3 linked regions of the Homo sapiens genome follow. The protein of the gene in region 1 purifies or fractionates together with the protein of each later gene. This does not show direct contact. Each region holds a gene or a part of one and is shown on either strand. Other genes may lie near its edges. The genes, in order: LYRM7, UQCRFS1 and NDUFAB1.

Evidence for each region.
Region 2: the proteins of LYRM7 (region 1) and UQCRFS1 purify together in Homo sapiens (co-immunoprecipitation; 5 studies listed by BioGRID and IntAct, with this or other methods). This does not show direct contact.
Region 3: the proteins of LYRM7 (region 1) and NDUFAB1 purify together in Homo sapiens (affinity purification with mass spectrometry; 4 studies listed by BioGRID and IntAct, with this or other methods). This does not show direct contact.

What each region holds. Positions count from the first base shown.
Region 1 is NC_000005.10:131,194,933-131,202,042, forward strand, and holds part of LYRM7 (complex III assembly factor LYRM7), read left to right. Parts: intron 1-4,598; coding exon 4,599-4,669; 3' UTR 4,670-7,110.
Region 2 is NC_000019.10:29,210,053-29,217,155, reverse strand, and holds the start of UQCRFS1 (cytochrome b-c1 complex subunit Rieske, mitochondrial), read left to right. Parts: upstream 1-4,004; 5' UTR 4,005-4,037; coding exon 4,038-4,251; intron 4,252-7,103.
Region 3 is NC_000016.10:23,593,267-23,600,674, reverse strand, and holds the start of NDUFAB1 (acyl carrier protein, mitochondrial precursor), read left to right. Parts: upstream 1-4,358; 5' UTR 4,359-4,384; coding exon 4,385-4,552; coding exon of another isoform or gene 4,553-4,587; intron 4,588-7,408. UniProt on the Homo sapiens protein: Carrier of the growing fatty acid chain in fatty acid biosynthesis.

The sequences.
Region 1 (7,110 bases):
AGCTTTTATAGTCCACTTCCTGGTGATATGAGTTAGGCAAAATAAAATTGGCCGGGATCGCTGGCTCACACCTGTTATCCCGGCACTTTGGGAGGCTGAGGTGGGCAGATCACCTGAGGTCAGGAGTTTGAGACCAGCCCCCTGGCCAACATGGTGAAACCCCGTCTCTACTGAAAAATATAAAAATTAGCCAGGCATGGTGGTGGGCGCCTGTAATCCCAGCTACTCGGGAGGCTGAGGCAGGAGAATTGCTTGAACATGGGAGGCAGAGGTTGCAGTGAGCCGAGATCACAGCCACTGCACTCCAGCCTGGGCGACAGACAGAGCAAGGTTCTGTCTCAAAAAATAATAATAATGATAAATAAAATTGAAAAAGAGGTTGAATGCAGATTAAGCTAGCCCACAAAGCAGAGATAGAAAAAAGTATTACTTTGCTAAAAGGCACAATTCTGTCTACAGCCTAGAGTCTAATTGATTAAGAGTCCCATAATTTAGAGCCTTGGAGAGTTAAAAATGCTAATTGTTCTTATCCACTAAAACTAAAGCCAGTACAAGCAGGGAAATTCTGAGCTGTAACATGAAATAAGATCGATGCCTCAAGACTTTCTCATTCTTCCAGACAAAGATTAGATATATGATTCATTTACTGACTGGAACTTACTATTCTTCATTGCTTTAAGAAGTGGCCCCTAAGGTAAGGGTTAAGGAGATGGGCAGAACGTAGAGGCTGCTACCAAAGGATGACAGTCTTCATCCTTATTTTTCTGTGGCTACTTGTGCATGGAAATGACTGGAAACCAATTTGAAGCTTATAAAGTTTTTGAGTGAATTGTATTGCCAAGAAACTCCAGGCCTGGCTAGCTCTTTTCACCTCTTAAGGCCACCCCTGGGCCCCTAAACTCCTATCACCAGGAAGTAGACTATGAAAGCTTTTAAAGCCCCAAAGAAGGGCATCTTCCCCAGTATCTCCACCTTAGAACAATGAGGCTCAGCAGGACCTAATGGAAACACTAGCACTGTAACCAAACATCCTTGATTTCAGTCTAGATGAGACCTGAGGGGACAGGTAGTGAGTGGATGTATGCTACAGATGGAAAGAAGGATTTATATGCATTTTGCATAGCCAAAGGGGTTGTGCTTGTTGCCTCTCCAGTATCTATTCTCCTGTTCTTTTTTTTTTTTTTTTTTGGAGATAGAGTGTCCTTCTGTCGCTCAGGCTGGAGTGCAGTGGCACGATCTTGGCTCACTGCAACCTCAGCCTCCCGGGTTCAAGCGATTCTCATGCCTCACACCTCCTGAATAGCTGGGACTACCGCTCGGGCAATCCAACCACCTCGGCCTCCTAAAGTACTAGGAGTATAGGTGTGAACCACCGTGCTTGGCTTCTCCTGTTCTTTTTTACTAACTGAGAAATTGTGTTCAGGGTGCAATGTACCAAGCAAAAAAAAAGTTATTTTCCAGACCATGTGACACCTTTCTGGTCTATATAAACCGTGTCTATTCGGTGTTACTTCCAAGAAAGTCATTGTTTTCCTGTTTAAAAGGAGCAGGCTGAGCTGGCACTCTCCTTTTGCCCTTTTCTCTCTTCTTCCCATCTGGAGTGCAGATGTGATATGACAAGCAGCAGTGAAGACAAAACCACTCATGGAAGGTAGCAGAACAGGAAGAGAGAAAGAGCCTGGGTCCTTAGTATCACTAAGGACAAGCACTAGCCCAGAACTGCCTTAATCTGTATTTCTTTTTTTTTTTTTCCGAGATGGAGTCTAGCTCTGTCGCCCAGGCTGAAGTACAGTGGCACGATCTCGGCTCACTGCAACCTCTGCCTTTGGGTTCAAGCGATTCTCCTGCCTCAGCCTCCCTGGTAGCTGGTGCCTGCCACCACGCCCAGCTAATTTTTGTATTTTTAGTAGAGACAGGGTTTCACTGTGTTGGCCAGGCTGGTCTCGAACTCCTGACTTTGTGATCCGCCCACCTCGGCCTCCCAAAGTGCTGTGATTACAAGCATGAGCCACCATGCCTGTCCTTTAATCTGTATTTATTGATAATGTGAGAAAAATTAAATCTCTTACTTATTTAAACCAGCTTTTGGACTTTGGTTATTCAGAACTGAACATACTCTAAAGTGATATGGGTATATTTAACCATTTATTTTTCCATTCTCCCATAAAAGTCTTGTTCCACTTTTGTAACACATGACATTATACTATAATTTGTTGTTTATCTAGCTATCTTTTCCATTAGATTGTGAGTTTCTGGAAGCTGAAGAGACTATTATATATTCACCTTCATATCTTAATTTCTTGATGTAATGTCTAGCATGAAATAGGCACATATAGGTTTGATAAGTGAAACAAATTATTGCCATTGTTAACAAGTTAAAATGCACACTACAATTTATTCTCTGATGAAATCTCCATAGGTTTGGTAAAAGCAAGTGAGATATAAACAATGGTTAAATAATACTTATTTAACTGGTTTTCATTTCAGTAAGCCAAATTTATCATCTGGCTAATAAGAGCACTATTCTTAGTCAGACCAGTTCTTTCTTAATTAAGTGAAATATTCAGTTTGCCTTTTGGGTTGAATTTGTTTTAGTGTTGTCTTCTGTCTTTTTTTTTTTTTTTTTTTTTTGAGAGAGAGAGTCTGTCTCCCAGGCTGGAGTGCAGTAGCATAATTATTGCTCACTGTAATCTCAAACTCCTGGGCTCAAGCAATCCTCCTGCCTCAGCCTCTTGAGTAGCTAGGAATACAGGTGTGCACCACCATGCCTAGCTAATTTTTAAACAATTTTTTGTAGAGACAGAGTCTCGCTGTGTTTCCCAAGCTGGTCTCAAACTCCTGGCCTCAAGCAATCTTCCCACCTCAGCTTCCCAAAGTGCCAGAATTACAGGCATGAGCCGCTGCATCTGGCCACTGTGTGTGTGTGTGTGTGTGTGTGTGTGTGTGTGTGTGTAAATATATATATTTTTAAAACCTTTTTATTTTGAAATAATTCAGATTTACAAAAAAAGTGCAAAAGTTGAAGGGTATGAGAATTTCCTTTACCCAGATTCTACAAATGCTAACATTTTACCATATTTGCCTTATTGTGTTTCCCTCATTTTTTTTTCCTGAACTTTCTGAGAGTAAGTTGCAGACATAATGCCTATTTACCCCAAATGAACATTTTTAGAATTATGACAGCCCATTTGGGTCTAGATCTCCTGGAGAAATACCTTAGAGTATATTTTTTTAAGATACTTCAGTGTGTATTTCCTAAATATACAAGGACATTCTCTAATGTAACTGCAATATAATGACCAAAACCAGGGTATTAATATTGATGCAATGCTATCATTTAATCTTTCCATTTGTCCTAATAATGTATTTTATGGCAAAAGGAAAAAAAATTCCCTGTGGACCAGTATCCTATTGGGGATCACACATTGCATGTAGTCATCATGTCTCTTTAGGTATCCTTAATCTAGAGCAGTCCTTCAGTCTTTCTTCGTCTTTCATGTCCATGATGTTTTGAAAAGTATAGGCAGGTTATTTTGTAGAAGGTCGTGCAAGCATTTTTTGATTGATAGCTCATCTAGGTTCAGCTCTTCTGGAGAAAAGAAGAAGAAATCAATGTATCTCCTCAAAAATTTGGAATTTTTTTTTTTTGAGGTGGACTGCCACTGTGTCCCCCAGGCTGGAGTGCAGTGGCACCATCTCGGCTCACTCACTGCAACCTCCGCCTCCCATGTTCAAGCGATTCTTGTGCCTCATTCTCCTGAGTAGCTGGGATTACAGGCATGCACCACCACACCCAGCTGATTTTTTTTTTTTTTTTCAGTAGAGATGGGGTTTCACCATGTTAGTCAGGCTAGTTTCCAACTCTAGACCTCAAATGATCATCCCTCCTTAGCCTCCCAAAGTTCTAGGATTACAGCCGTGAGTCACCACACCCGGCCAAAAATTTGTATCTTAAGAGCTTTATCTTAACTCCAGCAAGATGTCTTACCTAGGACTCAACAGGTTTTTGTTGTTGTTTTATGATATTTCTCAATGTGGGCACTATTGGCATTTTTGACAGGACAGTTCTTCACTATGCCAGACTGTTCCACCCATTACAGAAGGTTTAGCATCCCTGGCTCCTGCCCACTAAATTCCAGTAGCATTCTCCAGTTGATATGACCACACAAAACACCCTCTTTTAAGAACAATTGTTATTTAAAATTTAGAATCTTTAAATTAGGAGACCAGTCTTGCTTTTCATATAGTAGATAGTATAAGCAAAATTTCCAGTTGTTTTCATTATCAGTAATTGGTAATTAAATGACCAATAATAGAAGTTTTAGCTGAATTCTCTTCAGTTATTTGATTTGCTATATTTAATGATAAAGGGTTAAGTGGATCATATATGTTTTTATATAATCTGAAATGAGAATGCTATTAATTCTAATTAGAGTCAAGGATGCCACCTTAGATATCAACTGAAATAAAATATCCCTGGAAGATTTATCTTAAAACTGGATATTTTACTATTTTAAATTTTAGGGGGAAATGAGTGTCCTTGCATTTAATTCTAATTTTAGTGATGTTAATTATTCTCTTTTTTTTTTTTCTTTCAGAACTGGTCCCTAGGAAAGACCTTCTTGTAGAAAATGTGCCATATTGTGATGCACCAACTCAGAAGCAATGAGTTTTCTAGAATACAACAAGTCTTTGTACTTTTTAACTTTAAAATCTACAACTCTGGCAAAAGTCCTGGAAATGCAGACATTTTCCCTGAACTGGCATATTGAAAATGAATGAATTACAGAATAGCTTCATATTTAAATTTCATGTTAAAAGGTCATTACTGAGAACTAAAGAACATAATTAAGTATTTCTAAAGGAAATTAGATAAGAAAACATTTCATTTTCATTGAAAATCAAATTTCATAAAGCAAAGTAAATGCTTAGGGAGATATATTCAATCTTTGACCTTGATGAGTATTTGATCTTACCATAGCTATTTGAGAATGTGGTGCTTTTACAAATTGGTGAGTTTTCCTGCCATGTGAAATGCAATTATTACATTTAAATTGTTAGATTAAAATGATATTTAGTCCTGAAAAATATTAAATTGGTCAAAAAAATCACAGTGTATGCCAGCTCTCTACAGAAAGTGGCCTTTGTTTTCTAAAGCACTGGGATTATTTCTGTAGCTAATATATAATTGTACAGTTTCTTTTTAGAGATAGAGAGTATCTCTGTGTTCTTATGAAGACATTTTTTATCAGTTTTCTGAAAATAGATGAATAAAATATTATAGTCACCTAGGGTCACTATGGAATAAAGAAATCCTAGTTTAAAGAGGAAATAGTGGCCCTTGATCAAACTATTTAATATGGCCTTAGTAGAATTAGCTGTATTTAGACAAAGTTAGACTTTAGTGTGAAATGTAATCGGTGGCTACATTCTCATCGTTTTAATTAATGAAACTTAAATGGCTTCTCTTCTTCCACATGTCCTGTCCTTGACAAGATGGGCAGTATCACAAAAGGTCCTGGCATTCTACCATCTAACACTAGGAACTGTAAAATACTGTTTAATATTCTTCTTGTTTCTCTTTTATCTGTGTATCTTTGCCATTCTATTTTCTCAGTGAATAGTATGTTTTCTCCCATTCACTGATAAATTCTCTCATTTGATGATGATACAGGGTTTTTAATTTTTGCAAGATTCTCAATGCAAGCATTGTTATGTATCTAGAAATTATACCTAGAGAAAAATGAAAGTCGTTTCAAATTTGAAATTTGCCCTTTTAAGAGAATGCTGAATGTCATCGCAGTATATAATCACTATATAAATGTGCTGACTTACAGTTATTTTAGTGTCTATATGACATATTTTGAGGAAAGTTGGCTGACGTTATTTAAATTTAATATATATTCTATATTTTAGTGTTATTGAATATTTTATCACTGAGCTTTTTTCTTTAACCTGAATTCCCTGTTCCATTTTTCATTCATATTAATTTAAATAACTCCAGATTTCTTTCTTATAGTCATTATTAGTAGCAGATGAGATTAATAATTCACATGTTTATTAAAGATAGTGGCTTAGAAATTTTAAGATATATTGATATAGGCCCGGGCGCTGTGGCTCACACCTGTAATCCCGCACTTTGGGAGGCTGAGGCGGGCAGATCACAAGGTCAGGAGTTCGAGACCAGCCTGGCCAATGTGGTGAAACCCCATCTCTACTAAAAACACAAAAATTAGCCAGGTATGGTGGCGGGCGCCTGTAGTCCCAGCTACTCGGGAGGCTGAGGCAGGAAAATCACTTGAACCCGGGAGGTGGAGGTTGCAGTGAACTGAGATTGTGCCACTGCACTCCAGCCTGGGGGACAGAGTGAGACTCTGTCTCAAAAAAAAAAAAGAAAAAAAAAGGAAAAAGGAAAAAAAAAAGATATATTGATACAGATAGGTAGATATGATATTGTACTTTCATGCCATAAGACTACACAATAAAGTTCCTGAAAGTTCCTGGCTGGGCGCAGTGGCTCACGCCTGTAATCCCAGCACTTTGGGAGGCCGAGGCAGGCAGATCACCTGAGGTCAGGAGTTCTAGACCAGCCTGACCAACATGGGGAAACCCTGTCTCTACTAAAAAAAATACAGAATTAGCCAGGTGTGGTGGCACATGTCTGTAATCCCAGCTACTCGGGAGACTGAGGCAGGAGAATTGCTTGAACCCAGGAGACGGAGGTTGCAGTGAGCCGAGATCGCACCATTGCACTCCAGCCTAGGCAACAAGAGTGAAACTCCGTCTCAAAAATAAATAAATAAATAAAGTTCCTGTGAAGTATATAAACATGTCAACAACAGGCTTGACTGTCACAAAATTCTGAAAGATGTCGCACTCTATTCTTATATAGCATATGCTAATTTATTTATTTATTTTTTGAGATTGAGTTCTGCTGTGTCACCCAGGTTGGAGTGCAGTGGCATGGTCATGGTCCACTAAAGCCTTGACCCCTGGGGCTCAGCAGTTATGCCAACTAAGCCTCCCAAATAGCTGAGACTAGAGGTATGCGCCACCACACCTAGCTATTTTTTTTATTTTTAGTAAGGACAAGGTCTCATTATGTTGGCC
Region 2 (7,103 bases), on another chromosome or scaffold:
ACTTGGAACTAGGAGATTCCCCTGCATATCAGTGTTCTGCTACTCTCCGGAATCAATCGATCATGCTTGTGCAAGGAATTATATAAACCTGAGGTCCCAAACTCGAGGCCTCAGCAGATGGGCAGGTAATGTAACTGAATGGACACAGTGGGAAAGGACCCAGACCACCAAGCAGGTACCTACCCTGGCTGACAGCACCCCACCGTCTTTCTCTTTGTTGAGGACATGGGCCTCGAGTGGCTTAAAATAATGCAATTTTATTATTTTACAATTCTGGAGGTCTGAAGCCTAACACAGGTCTGTAGGGCTGCACTTCTTCTGGAGACTCTAAGGGAGAAGGTTTCCTTTCCATTTCCAGCTCTATCTCTGCCTGCAGGTCCCTCCTCTGGCCCCACCCTCAAAGCCAGCAATGTGGCATTTCTGTCCTCTCACCTCTTGCTTCCCTCTTCTAAGACCCTATGAACATGCCGCACCCACCCGGACACTGCAGGAAGACTCTCTGATATGGTTTGGCTCTGTGTCCCCACCCAGATCTCACCTTGAATTGTTACAATCCCCTTGAATTGTAACAAGGGGGGGACCAGGTGGAGGTGATGGATCATGGGGGCGGTTTCCCCCATGCTGTTCTCATGACAGTGAGTTCTCATGAGATCTGACAGTTTTATAAGGGGTTCCCCCTTCGCTCTGCTCTTATTTTCTCTCCTGCCACCCTGTGAAGAGGTGCCTCCTACCATGATTGTAAATTTCCTGAGGGCGCCCCCCCAACCAGCCGTGCTGAGCTGTAAGTGAATTAAACCTCTTTTCTTTGTAAATTACCCAGTCTCAGGTATTTCTTCATAGCCGCATGACAACAGACTAATACACTCTCCCTATCTCAATCTCCAATCACAGCTGCAACATTCCTTTGCTGTGTAAAGTAACATATTCCCAGGTTCCAGGGATTAGGCTGTGGACATTTTTGTGGGGAGGCATTATTCCATCTACCACAGTTTGTATGTGGGAGTACTCACAATTTGTAAATGCTAGCAAATAATTCTGAGGTTCATAGCACTGTGTATGCCAGATCACCAGGTGTCTCTGGGCAGAAATGAGTGGGGAGAGAATGAATCTCCAGTCCATGACTTCCGACCTCTGATTTAAACAGTGTTTGTTAAAAGGAAGGCTTGGTGTCATGCTTCCTCCTGCCTTGTTCATACATACACATTGCGTGTCAGACTTCCAGGGAACTGAGAAGCTTACCAAGCATTTATGTTCCCAGGCCTGTGGCTATTTTTTTCCCTCAGTTTACAAAACTAACAATGTTTATTAAGCTCTCATTGTATGCCAGTGTGCTAAATATCTCACATGGATTCTTTCTTTTAATTTGCACAGCAATGTCATTTTTATCCCTGTTTTACAAATAAGAAATCTGACACTCAGTAACGTTGCCCGATGTCACACAGGTAGTAAGGGGCAGAGCTGCCATGAAGGCCAGGCTGTCTGGCTCCAGAGTGAGCTGATACATGAAAGCTAAAACCCCCTTCAGTTAAATAACAACCACTGAGGGGTTGCAGTGGTGTGTACCTGTAGTCCCAGCTACTCTGGAGGCTAAGGGAGGAGGACTGCTTCAGGCCAGGAGTTTGAGACCAGCCTGGGCAACACAGCAAGACCCCCATCTACCAAGTGGAACCCAGGTTGGCCTACAGAAGTCCAAGTTCCAGTATGCCTGCCACTCCTGGACATTGGCCTCCTTCTTCCACGAGAAGACAGCTGTTCGGCCATACAGTTACCCATCTCTCTGCTGCAACGCTGGACTCGAACACCACTACCAGATGCGTTCTTATCAATGTGTCTTTGGGCATGTCATTTGTCTTCTCTGAGTCTTAGTTTCTTCATCTAGAAAATAGAAAGTTATTATTATTGCAGATATTTACATACTGTGTGCCAGGCACAGTTCTAGGCATTTTACATGTATTAATCCATCTCATCCTTAAAATAACTCTCTAGGGTAGATCCTGTTATTATCTCTGTTTTACAAGAGAAAGACGGAGGCACACACAGAGATTAAATAACTTGCCCTAGGGCACAGCTAGTGAGTGGTGAAACTAAAATTGAACCCAGGAGGTCTGGAGATAATTCCTATTCTGTTCACCCAACTGGGACATTGTGAAGGTTTTGTGAAGGATCATTCATTCATTCATTCATTTTTCATTTCCTTACCAACTCAGAGGGAATTGTGATATTATTTCTTGTGAAGCACTCAAACCATGCATGCTGTGTGACAACTTCTCTGGAAATGTCTTTTATCCTAAGGTTGTTGCCAAGGGAGAGCACTGAGCCAGCTGTGTGATGAGCCTGGCTAGGGTGGCCCCTGAGGAGGCAGCCTCCAATCTTGAGAGTACAATATAGTCCCTTGGGCTATAAGGCTGGTCAAAGCCTAGGCCCTAAGGGGAGTCATAGGAAGGTCAAAGGGGAAACCTGTCAGTACACTTTGGACCTGGCATGAGGAATAACAACGAGTCAGCAAGGATCAAGGGAAGGCTTCTTAGAGGAGGTGGCATCTCAGATAAAAACACCACTAGCAAATCCTCACTTGGTGCTGCCTGTGTGCTGGGCCTGCTTGTAGATGCTTTACACGTTTTAGTTCATTTACTCCTCCCAGTAACTTTACAACACACATGGCATCATTACTGCCCCCATTTGGCAGGTGAGGAAACTGAGGCACAGAGAGGTGAGGGAACTTGCCCAGATCACAGAGCCCATGCACAGCACAGAGCCAATTCTGTGCACTGCTTATATTAACATTTACTTAATATTTAAATTATTTTTGACCTAAATGAAAAACTTTATCTCAGTATAGTACAGAATAGAAAACCAGTATGGATAGAAAATCAATACTATGAACCATATAATGAAATCACTCTAGACTCAGTTCTCTGCTAAGAGCTTCTAACTCAAGATCTTTTCTGTTAAAAGTGGGAGATAAGTGTAGAGAGGAATTAAAGATATATTAGGATCAAACTGAGGCCAAGTGAATTTGCTCATGCCTATAATCCCAGTACTTTGGGAGGGGGAGACAGGACTCCTTGAGGCCAGAAGTTCGAGACTGGAGTGGGCAATATAGTGAGACCTCATCTCTACTTTTTTTTTTTTTTAATTAAAGATGTATTAGCACCAAACTGAGACTTTCTCATTGGTGCAATCAGGATTGAAAAACAAAACAAAAGAAAACAAAACTTTCTCACTATGTGATGGAACATGAATGAGCGAGCTCTGTGCATCCTCTAAAATTCTAAAATCCTACTTTGGGAAACAGTGGTGGCACTGAAGAGCATAGACTCAGGAGACAGATTACCCTGCTTCACATCTTGCTGGCTATCCAGTTCCTGGAAAAGAATCTCTCTAAACCTCGGTTTCTTCATGGGTAAAATGCTGATAGTAATAGCTCTGACTTCATAGAGACCTTGATAACAAATGAAAGAACGTAGGTATAATAAAACGCAAAACCAAATACACAGTGAATACTTAATAAACATAATCCATTAGCATTATCGAGCTTTGCACAGATGCCTCTGGCCTTTTTGTTGTTGTTGTTGTTAGATGAAGATAATAAAAATCATCATAGTAAACACATAGCGATTACTATGTGCTGGACTTCGTCGTAGTTGAGATATATTACCATCCTAAGTTAAACTATAATCGTTTATTGTTATCTCTAGGTCTTCCTAGATGAAATTTTTACCCTAAAGGATCGTAAAGTCGGCCCACCGGACGTCAGTGGGGTCCCCTGTTCAGCCCTCTCGTTCTTCTGGGGATCTCTCGGGACACTGACGAGGTGGCACCGGGACCTACAGGTGGGCCGCAAGCCCCGCCCCCAGCGACGGCTTGTAGCCCCGTCCCCCGACGCAGCGCCTCTCCAAGTTTGCCCCGCCCTGCAGGACTGCAGAATTTCCTTTCCGGCGGCGCGCTGTCGTCACGCGTCCCGCGCCTCCTCGCGCCTGCGCCGTGGTTGGAAGGTCGTCCCTGTGACCGGCTTGGCGGTTGGAGCGGCTGTCGCCATGTTGTCGGTAGCATCCCGCTCAGGCCCGTTCGCGCCCGTCCTGTCGGCCACGTCCCGCGGGGTGGCGGGCGCGCTGCGGCCCTTGGTGCAGGCCACGGTGCCCGCCACCCCGGAGCAGCCTGTGTTGGACCTGAAGCGGCCCTTCCTCAGCCGGGAGTCGCTGAGCGGCCAGGCCGTGCGCCGGCCTTTGGTCGCCTCCGTGGGCCTCAATGGTGAGCCGGGGCGAGGGCCGCGAGCAGGGCTGGGGGTCTCTCGGTGCCCGCTCCTCCGGCCCCCAGCAGGGAGCGGCCGCGGGCGCGCGAGCGGAGCCTGAATCAGGTCGGGCTGGGCGGCCTCCGCAACTCTGGGCCTGGCCCCCGGGCTCGGGGCGTCTTTCTGGTGGCCGGCCTGGACTCGCGTCCGCCGGCTTCGCCTGGTTCCTCCTCGGCCGAGTTCACGAGCTCTGTAGTCCCGCTGTTCCAGCCACCTCTGAGGGGTTTTGTTGCTTGCAGGTCGTTTGACCTTGGGCGAGTTTCTAAACGTACTTCCTGTGAAATGGATTCATATCTTTATCAATTTTGTAGGGGTGTCGTGAGGCTTAGGTGGAGGAATTCTACGTAAAGCCGTTAGCACAGTTTGGGCACTTACATGCTTAAGAAATGGAAACTTACTAATATTTGGGAAGTTGGTCTTCTCACCACTACCGATCCCTTCATGTCCTTCCCCTTCATCACCCCCCCACCAAAAAAAAAACAAAAAAAACATACACAAGGTCAGTTACAGTGTAGTGTCACAACATAATCAGTCGTCAAGGACGGGCAGAGATTGACGACATTTACATTTTACAGATGAGAAAACAGACGAGGTAGAATGACTCGCACCAGGATCCGTGGTGTGGACATGTGGTAGCAGGGATTTGACAAGACGAATTGTCGTAGCCACTGAGCTCTTCGCAGGGGCTATTCCACACCCTCTGTCCTTAGATCCCCGTTTATCTTCTTTGCCTCGCCTTCCATCTTTACTTGGCCCTGTATCGGAGATAGAGAAATGGCAGCCTGTGGGCAGTGTGTCTGCAGGCTGTGTAGTTTTCAAAAAAACTGGGAAGACTAATGGCATCTCTTAAAATGCTGGAAGCCGGTAATACTGGGATCTAGTTTCTACTTGGGAAAATTCCATAGTGTGCTGTGTAGTGGCCGCCCCCGCAGTTGGAGCAAGTGGTCTTCTCCAGTTTGTCACAGTCTTTACCAGGTCTGCGTGTTTCATTCTGTTACCAGCCTGGCTCCACTGATAGCTGTTTGTGACTCTTCCCCTACACGCTAACCAAATTGCCCGCCACTTTTCTTTTTACTCTGTCTTCATTCACCCTGGGCTCTGCACTTTCTTCATGGTCCTTCCACTAAGTTGCTACATGTCCATATGTTTTCCTTACCCATCTTTTCAATCTCAGTTAAGGATCAGGTGAATAAAGTTTTTATTTGCTGATTTGTCTGTCTCTGTAGCACATACACTTTACACTCTGTATTGTGTTTATTGGTAACTCCTCCACCCTTGGGCTTAAGGGCATAGAGAAGGTAATATCTTCTTTATTTTTCTATCTTTCACAACGTCGGATTTTGTATACAGTTAGTGCAAAGTATTTGTGAATGAATATTTGTTAAGGAGCATCAGTGGGTTTTGAAGAAACTGTCCATGGCAGGTGTAGAGTACCCTAGCCCATCCTTGGGACCTGGAGGTGAGAAGGAAGGAAGGAGAACATTTCAATAGCAAAAGAAAAGCATCTTTGGAATTCGTCGTGTTGCTAAAGTTTCTTCAAAAAATTGGAGGCTTACATTTCTCTGATGGCCAGTGATGCTGAGCATTTTTTCATGTGTTTTTTGGCTGCATAAATGTCTTCTTTTGAGAAGTGTCTGTTCATGTCCTTCGCCCACTTTTTGATGGGGTTGTTTGTTTTTTTCTTGTAAATTTGTTTGAGTTCATTGTAGATTCTGGATATTAGCCCTTTGTCAGATGAGTAGGTTGCAAAAATTTTCTCCCAATTTTTAGGTTGCCTGTAAACCACAATGAGATACCATCTCACACCAGTTAGAATGGCAGTCATTAAAAAGTCAGGAAACAACAGGTGCTGGAGAGGATGTGGAGAAATAGGAACACTTTTACACTGTTGGTGGGACTGTAAACTAGTTCAACCATTGTGGAAGTCAGTGTGGAGATTCCTCAGGGATCTAGAACTAGAAATACCATTTGACCCAGCCATCCCATTACTGGGTATATACCCAAAAGACTATAAATCATGCTGCTATAAAGACACATTTACATGTATGTTTATTGGGGCACTATTCACAATAGCAAAGACTTGGAACCAATCCAAATGTCCAACAATGATAGACCGGATTAAGAAAATGTGGCACATATACACCGTGGAATACTATGCAGCCATAAAAAATGATGAGTTCATGTCCTTTGTAGGGACATGGATGAAATTGGAAATCATCATTCTAAGTAAACTGTCGCAAGGACAAAAAACAAACACTGCATGTTCTCACTCATAGGTGGGAATTGAACAATGAGAACACATGGACACAGGAAGGGGAACATCACACTCTGGGGACTGTTGTGGGGTGGGGGGAGGGGGAGGGATAGCATTGGGAGATATACCTAATGCTAAATGATGAGTCAATGGGTGCAGCACACCAGCATGGCACATGTATACATATGTAACTAACCTGCACATTGTGCACATGTACCCTAAAACTTAAAGTATAATAAAAAAAAAATTGGAGGTTTACCTGACTTAGAGAAACTATTTTTAGAAACAGGCAAATAATGTAGAACCATAAGGCAAAAACCTTTTCTGTAATCATTTCAGCCTGTAATTTAAGTTCACATTATAGTCTGTCTAGATGGTTCATGGCAGGATGGCTTATGGGAGTGGAGGGGTTGGATCTGGAGAAGATTCTTGAATTGGAGAGGAAGGTTGTACTATTTTCATGCAGATTTCCAAGGCGCATTGGAGCTCAACCTTAAAATAAAACTTGTTTTGTTAAAATTCCTTAAATTTTCTCCTTTAAGTATTTGATTTTGCTTT
Region 3 (7,408 bases), on another chromosome or scaffold:
GAAAGGACAGCCTGGCCAAAATGGTGAAACCCAGTCTCTACTAAAAATACAAAAATTAGCCGGGAGTGGTGGCAGGCGCCTATAGTCTCAGCTACTCGGGAGGTTGAGGCAGAGAATCGCTTGAACCCAGGAGGCAGAGGTTGCAGTGAGCCAAGATCGCACCATTGCACTCCAGCCTGGGCGACAGAGCGAGACTCTGTCTCAAACAATGACAAAAAGAAAAAGTGTAACTGTAGGGGTGGGTTGCCCCTCCACACCTGTGGGTGTTTCTCGTAAGGTGGAATGAGAGACTTAGGAAAGAAAAAGACACAGAGACAAAGTATAGAGAAAGAAATAAGGGGACCCGGGGAACCAGCGTTCAGCATATGGAGGATCCCGCCAGCCTCTGAGTTCCCTTAGTATTTATTTATCATTCATGGGTGTTTCTCGAAGAGGGGGATGTGTCAGGGTCACAAGACAATTGTGGGGAGAGGGTCAGCAGACAAACACGTGAACAAAGGTCTTTGCATCATAGACAATGTAAAGGATTAAGTGCTGTGCTTTTAGATATGCATACACATAAACATCTCAATGCTTTACAAAGCAGTATTGCTGCCCGCAGGTCCCACCTCCAGCCCTAAGGCGGTTTTTCCCTATCTCAGTAGATGGAGCATACAATCGGGTTTTATACCGAGACATTCCATTGCCCAGGGACAGGCAGGAGACAGATGCCTTCCTCTTGTCTCAACTGCAAGAGGCATTCCTTCCTCTTTTACTAATCCTCCTCAGCACAGACCCTTTACGGGTGTCGGGCTGGGGGACGGTCAGGTCTTTCCCTTCCCACGAGGCCATATTTCAGACTATCACATGGGGAGAAACCTTGGACAATACCTGGCTTTCCTAGGCAGAGGTCCCTGTGGCCTTCCGCAGTTTTTGTGTCCCTGGGTACTTGAGATTAGGGAGTAGTGATGACTCTTAAGGAGCATGCTGCCTTCAAGCATCTGTTTAACAAAGCACATCTTGCACCGCCCTTAATCCATTCAACTCTGAGTTGACACAGCACATGTTTCAGAGAGCACGGGGTTGGGGGTAAGGTCACAGAATCTCAAGGCAGAAGAATTTTTCTTAGTACATAACAAAATGGAGTCTCCTATGTCTACTTCTTTCTACACAGACACAGTAACAATCTGATCTCTCTTGCTTTTCCCCACATGTAACAGCTTGTCTATGAAAGGTAGGAGGAATGGTATTAGAGATCTATAAAGGGTCAGCGGAGGGTCCTCTTACTTTGTTTTTAGGCTAAGAGGAACTTTGATGTGTTTATGGGTTCAGGAGAAAGAGCCAGAAGAGAGACCTTTGAGATGTAGGGAAGAAGAGCTAACTGGTGGTATAAGGTCCCATTGGGAATAAGAGGGGATGAGACTACCGTGCAAATGGGCTGGCAGAGGGAGCGATCATGGTGGGTTGGTGGGATAGTTTGTGCTGGGAAGCTGACAGCTTTTATGCTTATCCATCCTTTGATGGGAATGTTACTGAAAAGCACCGGTGTTGTCTTTTAACTCTTCCTCATCTGCTAAGGATGTGATCTTAATATTGGGACTTTTACCCTACAGGCCATGTAGGCTGATATTTTGTCTTTATTTGTTTGCTGAAGGGAAAAGTAGCTCTCCCAAATTATTTAAATAAGAGATGATTTGTTATGTTTTACCAAAAGGATTAAATGTAACACTGAGGCCGGGTGCAGTGGCTCACGCCTGTAATCCCAGCACTTTGGGAGGCCGAGGCGGGCAGATCATGAGGTCAGGAGTTTGAGACCACCCTGGCTAACACGGTGAAACCCCATCTCTATAAATACATACATACATACATATATACATACATACGTGTAACACTGAAAGACTAGATAGGTCATGGGAAGAGATGGCCCCAATTGTGAACTTAGTAGGATTAGGTTCTTCCTAAGCTAAGAGCTACATTTTTTTGGGAAACAGAGTCTCACTCTGTTGCCCAGGCTGGAGTGTAGTGGTGTGATCATAGCTCACTGCAGCCTTGACCTCCTGGGCTCAATTGGTCCTCCCACCTCAGCTTCCCAAGCAGCTGGGACCACAGACATGCATCACCATGCCTGGCTAATTTTTTAAATTTTTTATGGAGACAAGGTCTCCCTGTGTTGCCTAGGTTGATCTCAAACTCCTGGGCTCAAGCGATCCACCTCCCTTGGCCTCCCAAAGTGCTGGGATTACGGAGGTGAGCCACTGAACCAGGCTTGCCTGTCTGGCTTGCTCACAGTTGCAGCCTCAACAATTAGTACGTAACAGATACTCAATTTTTTTTTGAGACTTTTTTGAGATGGAGCTTCACTCTTGTTGCCCAGGCTAGAGTGCAATGGCGCGATCTCAGCTCCCTGCAACCTCTACCTCCCGGGTTCAAGCAATTCTCCTGTCTCAGCTTCCTGCCTCCTGAGTAGCTGGGATTACAGTCACCTGCCACCACACCCAGCTAATTTTTGTATTTTTAGTAGAGACGGGGTTTCACCATGTTGTCCAGGTTGGTCTCAAACTCCTGACATCAGGTGATCCACCTGCCTCAGCCTCCCAAAATGCTGGGATTACAGGTTTGACCCACCATGCCTGGCCCCCAGACACTCGAGTTTTAAAGGAATGCTATAATAAATAGAAATTATTTTACAACAGTGGGATGAAACTATGTTTTTTTTGTTTTCGTTTTTTTTTTTTGAGATGGAGTCTTGCTCTTTTGCCAGCCTGGAGTGCAGTGGCGCAATCTCGGCTCACTGCAACCTCTGCCTCCCAAGTTCAAGCGATTCTCCTGCCTCAGCCTCCTGAGTATCTGGGACTACAGGCGCGCACCACCACACCCAACTAATTTTTGTATTTTTAGTAGAAATGGGGTTTCACCATGTTGACCAGGATTGTCTCGATCTCTTGACCTCGTGATCCACCCACCTTGGCCTCCCAAAGTGCTGGGATTACAGGTATGAGCCACCGCGCCTGGCAGCATACCATTACATTTTATTTTACTTGGATTTAACAAAAATAAAAAGAAATTGAGGTAAAACTGGTGACATTATTGGATCATTCATTCAGGCAGATTTCAGAATTTGGAGTCATTATCCCGTGTGTTTCCATTTCAGTCAATATCCTTTAGCTCCCTGCTTAGAAATAGGAATTAGCCTTCTTAAACTCCTCCCTCGCTTACCTATTTTTGTTAGCTATTGTAAGGAACATGGCTGTGCTTTGGTCAAGGATAGGCCAAGGTAAGATGTTTACATCCTGCGTGACTCAGCAAGTTTAGACAGAGGCGTATAACTCCACTTGTTATCACAGCCATGTAGGCATAACATGGGAAGGTCATCACTTGGCTCTAAGCCACTATTTTCTGTAAAAGGTATAATTGCCCTGCTGATACTGTACAGGCGTTCGTGCCCAGAGAAAGAGAGAGCCAGAGCTGTCAGTCTTTGCAGACAGACAGGGGGAGCCAGATCACAGCTGAGAGAGAGTTAAGCTGCTGACCCTGAAGGCAAGGGAGAGCCAGCCTCGCAGTTGTGTGGGGGAGCCATGGGACTAAGCAGCTGAGACAAGGCAGACAGTGTGAGAGAACTAGTGTAAGTAAGCTGCTGATGAGAGCTGCTGCTGAATAAAATCATCTTTCACCTGCCTACCGTCCCCTGAGTGTTCTTTCAGCTATCTGTTCATCCACCCACTCCCCTCAGACCTCGATATGGGCTGGAACCTGGCTGTGGGCATGACAGTTGGCATAGTCGTGGACCTGACAGCTATATTATACACTGTCAAGTTTTAAAACATGTATATTGTTTTAATCGTAATTCTCACATTTATTAGTCTTAGGTATTGAAATTGATTATTTTTTCACATTATTATATATATTTTTTTACCTATTCAATAAATGTTAATACTTGTGGAAGAATTGTGGAATCAAAACTTTGTCCTTTTTTTCTTTTAATCTTTTTTGTAATAGAGACGGAGTCTTGCCGTGTTGGCCAGGTTGGTCTTGAACTCCTGAGCTCAAACAGTCCTGCCACCTTGGCCTCCCAAAGTGCTAGGATTAAAGGCGTCAGCCACCGCACCCGGCCCCAAACGTTTAAACAGATGTATTTCAGAACTTTCAGATAAAAAATGAAAGTAGGTTTCTCGTGCCGTGTCGTTTAGGGAAAGACGGCGACGTCTGCACAGTTTAGTTGTGACACCAAGCAGTTGTTCGTCCCCGAACCTGGATGGGCTCCGAGGGCGCAGTGCCTCCAGGAGCCGCCAGGGGCCGCCACCGCCGGCGGTGCCCGACAGCGCTGCCGTGTGCGTCGCCTGCGCGCCGCCGGAAAGGAACCCTGGTCCGGAGGCGGCGGCGCAGTGCATCCTGGGTTGGCGTAGCCATGGCGTCTCGTGTCCTTTCAGCCTATGTCAGCCGCCTGCCCGCGGCCTTTGCGCCGCTGCCCCGGGTCCGGATGCTGGCCGTGGCCCGGCCTCTCAGCACCGCTCTCTGCTCCGCGGGGACCCAGACGAGGCTCGGGACTTTGCAGCCGGCCTTAGTGCTCGCGCAGGTGACTCGTGGTGACTTTGCTGCCGCTTGGCAAGGGTCAGGGATTGGGCCCGGTGGGGGTGGGGGCCGGGCATCCGGGGCGCGCCAGCTGCAGGCAGGGGTGACCCGGGGGGCAGCCGGCTCGCTCCGCAGCCCCGCTGCCTAAAGGTGTTTAGTTGACCCCTGACGGGAGGCCGGGTGACCTCGTAATAACGAGCAAGAGCACTGACTCGAGTCCAGCACTGCTGGGCTGCCGCTTACCGAAACTTTGGACAAGTCTCCTAGCCTGGCTCACACTCACCTGCAAAATTGGGATCCTGGTCTCTACCTTGCGGAGTAGCAATGAGGATTAGATGAGTTAATGCGGCTAGAGCACCTCGTACGGTCTCAAAATAGCGGTCACCGTATTGTAGTGAAAGCAGCATGCAAAGAGGCAGCCACACTGGCCTACAGCCTTCTCCAGAGCGGTTTTCTCTCTGCAGTTCTGTCCTTACTCTTCCCTGCAGCACCTTCTGCCTGTGTCCAGGACTCCTGGAAGTAATTCTAGGAAACAAGCCAAGTGACCTTTGACCAATAAGGATTTGAATTGCGCGGGTCCACTTATATGCGGATTTTTTTTCAACCAAACGCGACCAGTATTTACGGGATGTGCCGCCCCGCGTATAAGGAGGGCAGGCTCTTCCTATAAGCGGATTCTGCAAGGCTGACTGCGGGACGTGAGTGTGCGGGGATTTGGGTATAGTCGGGGGTCCTGGAACCAATCTGCGCAAATACCAAGGAACGACTGTACCTGTAGTATATAGCTTGAGCTGATGAAATCTGCGTGAGGCTGAAACGCCGGGAGGCAGTGATTTCGGTGTTGTTGTTGTTGTTTTTGAGACAGAGTCTCGCTCTGTCACCCAGGCTGTAATGCAGTGGCGTGATCTCAGCTCACTGCAACCTCCGGCTAACGGCAACCTCCGCCTCTCAGGTTCAAGCAATTCTCCTCCCTCAGCCCCCCCGAGTATTTGGGACTACAGGCGCCCGCCACCATGCCCGGCTAAGTTTTGTATTTTTAGTGGAGACGGGGTTTCATCATATTGGCCAGGTTGGTCTTGAACTCCCGACCTCGCAATCCACCCGCCTCGGCCTCCCAAAGTGCTGGGATTACAGGCGTGAACCACCGCGCCCTGCCTTTTTTTTGTTGTTTTCTAAGTTCTCCAGATGACTCTGAAGTGCAGTTGGGAATAAAAATAACCGTCTTAAGGTAGGATAGACTCCCAAGGTCAAGTTATGAAACCCCTTTTCAAAGTCATAGACTTCAGGTAATAGTGGTTTCAACCTTGACTGCATGTTAGTGTGAAAAATAAGTGTGTCTGGCCAGGCGTGGTGGCTCACGCCTGTAATCCCAGCACTTTGGGAGGCCGAGGCGGGCGAATCGCTTGAGCCCAGGAGTTTGAGACCCTCCTAGGCAACATGGTGGAACCCCGTCTCTACAAAAAATACAGAAATTAGGCCGGGCGCGGTGGCTTATGCCTGTAATCCCAGCACTTTGGGATGCCGAGGCGGGCGGATCACGAGGTCAGGCGATCGAGACCATTCTGGCTAACACAGTGAAACCCCGTCTCTACTAAACATACAAAAAATTATCCGGGCGTGGTGGCACGCGCCTGTAGTCCCAGCTACTCAGGAGGCTGAGGTGGGAGGATCGATTGAACCCAGGAGGCAGAGGTTTTAGGGAGCTGAGATGATGCCACTGCACTCCAGTCTGGGAGGCAGACCGTCTTAAATAAGCCAGCCAGCCCGTGCCAGATCGACAGAATCTAGAAGTGAGTACTAGGCGACTATTTTTAGAAGTCATCAAGTGTTTCTTTTGTGAAGCCAGTGTTGCTGTTCACTGACAGTGTAATGGATTCATTCATTGGGCACTGCCCTGTTGGCTGTATCAAAAGGTGAAAAGTGTCACCTTGAAATTAAGGGTTAAAGGCCAGGCGCGATGGCTCACGCCTGTAATCCCAGCAGTTTGGGAGGCCGAGACGGGCGGATCACGAGGTCAGGAGATGGAGACCATCCTGGCTAACACGGTGAAACCCCGTCTCTACTAAAAATACAAAATAATTAGCCGGGCGTGGTGGCGGGCGCCTGTAGTCCCAGCTACTCGGGAGGCTGAGGCAGGAGAATGGCATGAACCCGGGAGGCAGAGCTTTCAGTGAGCCGAGATCGTGCCACTGCACTCCAGCCTGGGCGACAGAGCCAGACTCCATCTCAATAAATAAATAAATAAATAAATAAATAAATAAATAAATAAATAAATAAGGGTTAAAAAGGCAGTAGTTAGAATTGATGAGTGTCTGGTTCCTAAGATTGATTTCAACATTGGGCTAAAATGTGAAGTGACTGTCTTTGTTCTTACAGCATTGATTCTCAGTTGATTGGACATACAGATCACTTAGGCTGGAATACAGATTCTGATTCAGTTCTGGGAAGGGGCCAGAGAGTTTCCACCTCCAGTGGGCTTCCAGAAGATCCTGCTGCGGGTGTTCCTTGGACCATGCTTTGAATGGCAAGGAGCTCAGAAATGTTCCACTATGGCGGCTTGGCTTGCATATATAGCAGAGGAACCATTTTATTTATATTTACAAAGTGGTTTTGACTAAGTTCATTCAAAGATATTGAGGGCCAGCTGTGTGCCAGGACTCATGCTAGCTGTTGAGAGATACAGAGATGGATACAAAAGGAAGACATTAGCTTACATCTTCATTGAACGCTTTGCAGCCCTTATGTCCAACTTGCTGGCTCCTTCTCTGCTGCTGTCTTCTTCCCTAGGCTGTTGTGACACTGTTCTCCCTTGGTTGGTTTGTCCTCCTACCTTGTTGGGACACTTTGCCTTTCAGGCTGG